Linked DNA regions of Homo sapiens. The protein of the gene in region 1 purifies or fractionates together with the protein of each later gene. This does not show direct contact. Each region holds a gene or a part of one and is shown on either strand. Other genes may lie near its edges. The genes, in order: FAT3 and HPRT1.

What was found.
Region 2: the proteins of FAT3 (region 1) and HPRT1 fractionate together in Homo sapiens (co-fractionation; one large-scale study listed by BioGRID). This does not show direct contact.

Annotation. Positions count from the first base shown.
Region 1 is NC_000011.10:92,350,193-92,354,020, reverse strand, and holds part of FAT3 (protocadherin Fat 3 isoform 1 precursor), read right to left. Parts: intron 1,926-3,828; 5' UTR 1,909-1,925; coding exon 1-1,908.
Region 2 is NC_000023.11:134,469,985-134,473,812, forward strand, and holds part of HPRT1 (hypoxanthine-guanine phosphoribosyltransferase), read left to right. Parts: intron 1-3,374; coding exon 3,375-3,481; intron 3,482-3,828. UniProt on the Homo sapiens protein: Converts guanine to guanosine monophosphate, and hypoxanthine to inosine monophosphate. Transfers the 5-phosphoribosyl group from 5-phosphoribosylpyrophosphate onto the purine.

The DNA.
Region 1 (3,828 bases):
TTTAAGCTGTAAAACACCAGAATCTGGGTTTAAATAAAAGAAGCCAAGTTCATTTCCAGAAATGATTTTGTACTTTACAAGTTCAAGTTCATCGATATCGATCGCTGAGACTGCTGTGATGTGACCACCAACTGGAAAGTCATATGAAATAACTCCCTGGCAAGCCACTTTTTCAAAGAGAGGGCTGTTGTCGTTGACATTTCCTATTCGAATAGTCACATTGACCTCACTTTCATGGCGGTATGGTGAACCCCAGTCAGAGGCTCTAACAATGAATCTGTAAATTTCTGGGGAGGATTCAAAATCCAGTTCTTCAGTTGTGCTAATAACACCTGTAAACTGATTAATGACAAATGGTAACAAATTCAGGCTAGCGATACTATAGGTGATGTACCCATTTTCTCCTTTATCCTTATCAGAAGCTGAAACTGTTAGAACGCTGGTTCCCACTGGGACACTTTCATTCACATAAGCATCATACAGTGGTTGCTGAAATTCTGGGGTGTGGTCATTTGCATCTTCTATGCTGATGGTGACCTGTGCTTTTAAATCTCCTTCCTTGTTTGTCACCTCCAGTTTATAAACCTCCTTCTTAACAGTATTCAGTGGCCGTGCTGTAACAATCAGACCCGACCGAGGATTAATTTTAAAGTACACTGCATCCTCACCAGGAGATAATTTGTATTCCACATCTATCGGTTCAGGACTTAATTTTACTATAGCAACCACGACACCAGGAGGGGAAAATTCACTTATGCTCACATCGTACACTTCTTTTTCAAATCTAATGGGGACAGTGTCTCTTGTGGGGTTGCCAATGTAGACTGCCTTTAATGCTGAACATTTTTGAGGAGATCCCTTGTCTTTTGCTTGAAGAGTGAGATTGTAGCCATAGGGAAAGCTCTCCCAGTCAATCTGCTTCCTCTCCTTAATCTTGTACTCATTCAACCACTTTCCTTCCTTAGCCAGGAAGAACTGATCTAAAGGATCCCCAGCCACAATGGAAACAGATTCGATCTCTCCATTCGCTCCATCATCTAAGTCATCAACTGTCACCACTGCATATGTTGGCTCTTTTTCCAACGAGAAAGGAACATGAGTGACTACATGGATTGTTGGGGCATGTTCATTTATGCGCTCAATGTGAACATAAAGCTTTGCAGTACTGCTCACTCCATTGTTCCCATACAGTTTCATTCCCCGGTCCACAGCCAAAATTTCCAGATCATACCTATTCTTTTCATCATAATTTAATCGACCACTTAAGGAGATGACACCACTCGTGGGGTGAACTGAAAAGAGATCAACTTTATTTTTAAAGTAGTAGTAGAATTCTCCATTGGAACCAATATCTGCGTCTGTTGCAGTCACCTGGGCAACACTAGTCCTTAGAGGTGTGCTTTCTGCTATGGTAACAGAGTATGTTGTGGGTGAAAACAAAGGTCTCAGATCATTCATATCTAAAACCTGTATATTCACTTTGGTCCATGCTTCCAAATCCTCTCCTCTGACAGAACCTTTTACTATCAATAAATAATTATCCTGGATTTCCCTATTTAATATGGCAGAATTGCCACCTTTAGTTCTTATTCTGAGAAAACAGAAATCTGCAATGATGACTTCCTCTGCTTTGAAAAAGCCTTCCTCGTCTCCGGACACTATTCTGTATTTGATATCCCAGGATAGATCTATTAAGGTGATGCCCATTCTACTCTGGCTGTTGACGTAGGTCCTTGCTGCTGAGTTCTCATACACGGTAGCATTATAAATGGAATGTGTGAAGTGGAAGCCCAGGGGTCCAGTCCCTGGCAGCCCCTGGGAGACAGTGGCCAAAAGCTTGAAAAGCAGGAGGATGAGGCAACAAGCAGGAGGCCGTGTGCCCACACAGTGTCCCATAATTATATCCATCACATCATACTTCCATCCTGGAGGGAAGAAAGAGAGAGAGAAAAGATAAATTAACCATCCTAGAAGAAGGGGGAGAGTGGGAAATAACTATTAGGAAGCCATGCTTTTTAAAACTTTATCACAAAATCTTTTTACTAAAACAGCAATATAAGAAAAAATTAGAAACCTTGCCACTACTAGGTAATAAGGAACTTAAGATTACTAGAATTTAGCCCAATCTTGTAAGAATTGTTTTCAAGTGACACTTTGTTTTAAATAACACTTTTATACTACTGACAGCGTTGTTCATTGGTACAAGATTTCTTACATTCTGAAGGTCAATTTAGAGATATATTGGAAGCCTTAAGTGCATTTACCTTTGACTTAGAACTGCCTTTGCAGTAATTATCCTATAGAAACATTTAGACAATTATCTGTTATAGCACAGTTTAAAGTAAAAAAAAAATGAAGAGATGCTAAATGCCTATCAATAGAGGACTGAATAATTCATGGTGTATTCATAAAATAAAATATTATGCAGTCATTAAAAATAGAGACATAAAAGATGTGCATTTTCAGATGCAGTAAGATGTAATGCTAAGGAAAAAAGGTCATCAAACAGTATATATAGCATGAGTTCTATTATTATATAAACACCTATATGTGCAAATGAATTTTTATATTTAAAAAGGATTAACTGTGTTTTGGGATTTGGTGGCATATTTGCATTTTCTAACTTTTCTTCAATGAACATTGTTCATCAATAGTTACATAATTACTTTTATAATTATAATCTTTTTAAAATGCTTCAAGGTATTACCATCTTTTATTGTGCTTACTTTTAAACTGATCAAGGTTTATGAATAATGCAATGCCATGAGAATGAACAAAGTGTCAAGTTACAAAGCAGAGACAATAATCCCTAAGGAGTTATATGACTGGAGTGATATCCAGAACTATTCAGAACAAGGGAGGTAAGAGTGATTACTTGCAAGAAAAACTTTAGAAATTACAAGAGATACTTCCAATTACTTTCATCAATGACTATTAAATTTGGACAGTTTCTACAGTTTCATGACTATGTGGGTTAAAAGATACAAACTTTTTCCTATTTTAGCCAGTAAAATCAATCAAGGAGAAGGGAGAAAGGAGGTATTCAACAAGAAAAAGTTAAGTCTATTCATACCCAAAGGATCAGATTTTTAGAACCCCCAAATATGAGTTCTTCCATCCAGTCTTATACTCTGCAAGCCCTTGACATTCTCCTTTTCTTCCTTTACAGGGAACGTGAAGATGAGAGGAGATGGAAAATGAATTTCTTTGCAGGCATGTAATGATGTAGGCACTGTGTCAGTCATTTTTCCACTTTGTTGTATTTAATCTTCATGATAATCCTAAGTAATAGGTACTATTTTACCCAATGACATATTAGAAAACTGAGGGTCAGAGAAGTTAATCTATTTAGTTGAGACATTTGCCCAAACAATGTTCCCCAGCCGGCAAGTAGTAAAGCAGGATCTCAGACCTTAATCTTTCTCTAAAATCCATGCTTTTCCCCATCACACAATCACTCTCTCAAAATTACCTGCAAGCAAGAATGAAATAATTAAGGATCCTAGAAGCATATATGACATAATTTAATTCTAATGAAATAGTCAACATATGTCATTGATTTTAAAAAGTACAACCCATCCCTGCCCCCAGCATATCTTTTTGGTTATCTCCTCTCTGGTTTTAATGTAGTTCTAGTTATTGGCTGCAAACTGAAAAAAAAAAAAATCCCTACAGGAGTTTAACATATTAAAATATTACAAATTGTATGGTTTATAAAACCCTTTCATATCCAAGGTTAGCAAGGCACATATTATTATAACCTTTTTGTTAATGATAATATAAAACCTCATTTTCCTATCTCGACTTTATTAGTTAAGTCTAAATAGA
Region 2 (3,828 bases), on another chromosome or scaffold:
AATGTCCCATTTTCATTCTTTCTATAGTAAATATGTTCTGATATGTGAAGGTTTAGCAGATGCATCAGCATTTAATCCTAGAGGATCTGGCATAATCTTTTCCCCCAAGAATAGAAATTTTTTCTGCTTATGAAAGTAGTACATGTTTCTTTAAAAACAAATCAATATTGACTTCTGCCTGCTGTATAGCACTATGCCTCCACCTGGCCATGACCAGGGGCATGTCCTGGTCCACCTACCTGAAAATGTTTGCAACCAGCCTCCTGGCCATGTGCACAGGGGCTGAAGTTGTCCCACAGGTATTACGGGCCAACCTGACAATACATGAAGTTCCACCAAAGTCTGAGAACTCAGAACTGAGCTTTGGGGACTGAAAGACAGCACAAACCTCAAATTTCTCAGCACTGGAAACCTCAAAATATAACTGAATTCCATAAATAAGATTTTAAGTCTTAAATATGTATTTTTAAATGTATTAAAAGTCAAGCTGCTTGTATTTAAGCACCTAATACAATGCTTAGGTTGTAAAAGGAGATGCTCAATAGGTACTAACTGATATATTGAGATTTAATTATGGTTTGACCAATATTTATTGGAAACCGCCAAAGCTTAAATCATCAGCTTCTTGAATGTGATTTGAAAGGTAATTTAGTATTGAATAGCATGTGAGCTAGAGTATTTCATTCTTTCTGGTTTATTTCTTCAAATAGACTTTGAATATAATGGTGAATGGGTATTATAAATTAACTAATAAAAATGACATTGAAAATGAAAAAATATATATATTAAAGTGTAGAAAGTGACCAGGCGTGGTGGCTCACACCTGTAATCCAAGCACCTTGGGAGGCTGAGGCAGGAGGATCTCTTGATCCCAGGAGTTCAAGACCAGCCTGGGCAACATAGCGAGACTTCGTCTCTAAAAAAAAAAAAGAGAGAGAAAAAAATTTTTTTTATTTAAAAAAAGTGTAGAAAGTGTCAAGACCCCACTTCTTACCATTATTTGGTATATTTCTCTATACCCACCCACCCTTCCTCCTTACTCCCTCCCTCCCTTCCCAATCTTTTTATCTTTTTGTATTCTGATTTTTTGTTTGTATATTTTGCTTTAATTTAATGTATCCTTTAAAAATTTCCCATACATTTTATATGTATATATAAAAACGCATGCTGCCAAAGATAATTTATAAGAAAGACCATTGAATTTTTTTAAAAGTGATATATATTCATTGAAAAAAATTTAGAATATATAGCAAAGCAATAAAGAACTAAATAAAATTGCTGTAACTCCTCTTTCAAAGATAAGTGCTTTTATGATTTTGTTGTATTTTTTTCTGTATATAGGTACATATATAGTATTTATAAAGCTGTACTCATAGTACATTTTCACATCACAGGTACCATATCAGTGTTATTAAATATTTTGTATGCCAGGGGCTAGACATACCAAGACAACCAATATGTGGTTCTACTTAAATAATATTAGAGTATCTTTTATGATGACACTTCATGAGTTGACTATAATAATCTTAGACTTCTAAGAGTTTGGGTTTTCAAAAGATCACTTAGCTTTTTTGGGTGATTTTTCCCCCTTACTGTGAGATGAGAGAGGCTGTTTGGATTTGGGATTGGGGTAGCGGGGACAGCAACTTTTCTTTTCTTTTTCTTTTTTATTTTGAGGTAGGGTATTGCTGTGTCACCCAGGCTGGAGTGCAGTGGTGTGATCTCGGCTCACTGCAACCTCCACCTCCCGGGCTCAGGTGATCCTCCTGCTTCAGCCTCCCCAGTAACTGGGACTACAGGCGCGTGCCACATGCCTGGCTAATTTTGTATTTTTAGTAGAGATGGGGTTTCACCATGTTGGCCAGGCTGGTCTCTAACTCCTGACCTCAGGTGATACGCCCACCTGGGCCTCCCAAAATACTGGGATTACAGGCATGAGCCGCTGCATCAGCCAGCAGTTTTTCTTGTGGTTTTTTTTGTTTGTTTTGTTTTGTTTTGTTTTTGAGATAGGGTCTTACTCTGTTGTCCACGCTGGAGTGCTGTGGTATGATCGTAGCTCACTGCAGCCTCAAACTCCTGGGCTCAAGTGATTCCTTCTGCCTCCGCCTCCCGAGTAGCTGGGACTACAGGTATGCACCACCATACCTGGCAAATTTTTACAAAGTTTTTTGTAGGGACGGGGTCTTGCTACATTCCCCATGTCGGTCTTGAACTCCTGGCCTCAAGCAACTCTCCTGTCTCAGCCTCCCAAAGCACTGGGATTACAAGTGTGAGCCACCACACCATGCCAGTTTTTCCTGTTCAGTGTGATATTTTATCTTGTTAGACTACAGTGTGTTAAAACTTGTTTTACTAAATTTTCAAACATACTCAAAAGTGGAGAGAATAGTATAATGAATACCCGTATGTTCATCACCCATGTTTAGAATATTATTAAATATAAAGATTTTGCTGCGTTTGTCTTAGCTCTTTAAAATTTTTCTTTTTCTCTTTGTGACCTAAAGGAAATTCCATATCTTATCACTTTACTTCTACATTCTTGACTAAGATGACTAAGACATATAGTTACATGGTTTTTTGTTTTGTTTTTTGTTTTTTAAAGACGAAATCTCGCTCTTGTCCCCCAGGCTGGAGTGCAATGGTGCCATCTCAGCTCAGTGCAACCTCTGCCTTCTGGGTACAAGCGATTCTCCTGCCTCAGCCTCCCAAGTAGCTGGGATTACAGGCTCCTGCCACCACGCCTGGCTAATTTTTGTATTTTTAGTAGAGACGGCGGGGGGAGGTTTCACCATGTTGACAAGGCTGGTCTGGAACTCCTGACCTCAGGTGATCCACCCGCCTCGGCCTCCCAAAGTGCTGGGATTACAGGCGTGAGCCACCGCGCCCAGCCTGTTTTTTTGTTTGTTTGTTTTGTTTTTTTTGAGACAGAGTCTTGCTCTGTTTCCCAGGCTGGAGTGAAGTGGCGCATTCTTGGCTCACTGCAACCTTCACCTCCCAGGTTCAAGTGATTCTCCTGCCTCAGCCTCCCAAGTAGCTGGGACTACAGGCATGTGTCACCACACCCGGCTAATTTTTTTGTATTTTTAGTAGAGACGGGATTTCACCGTGTTGCCCAGGCTGGTCTCGAACTCCTGAGCTCAGGCAGTCTGCCTGCCTCAGCCTCCCAAAGTGCTGGGATTACACGTGTGAACCAACCCGCCCGGCCTGTTGTTTTCTTACATAATTCATTATCATACCTACAAAGTTAACAGTTACTAATATCATCTTACACCTAAATTTCTCTGATAGACTAAGGTTATTTTTTAACATCTTAATCCAATCAAATGTTTGTATCCTGTAATGCTCTCATTGAAACAGCTATATTTCTTTTTCAGATTAGTGATGATGAACCAGGTTATGACCTTGATTTATTTTGCATACCTAATCATTATGCTGAGGATTTGGAAAGGGTGTTTATTCCTCATGGACTAATTATGGACAGGTAAGTAAGATCTTAAAATGAGGTTTTTTACTTTTTCTTGTGTTAATTTCAAACATCAGCAGCTGTTCTGAGTACTTGCTATTTGAACATAAACTAGGCCAACTTATTAAATAACTGATGCTTTCTAAAATCTTCTTTATTAAAAATAAAAGAGGAGGGCCTTACTAATTACTTAGTATCAGTTGTGGTATAGTGGGACTCTGTAGGGACCAGAACAAAGTAAACATTGAAGGGAGATGGAAGAAGGAACTCTAGCCAGAGTCTTGCATTTCTCAGTCCTAAACAGGGTAATGGACTGGGGCTGAATCACATGAAGGCAAGGTCAGATTTTTATTATTATGCACATC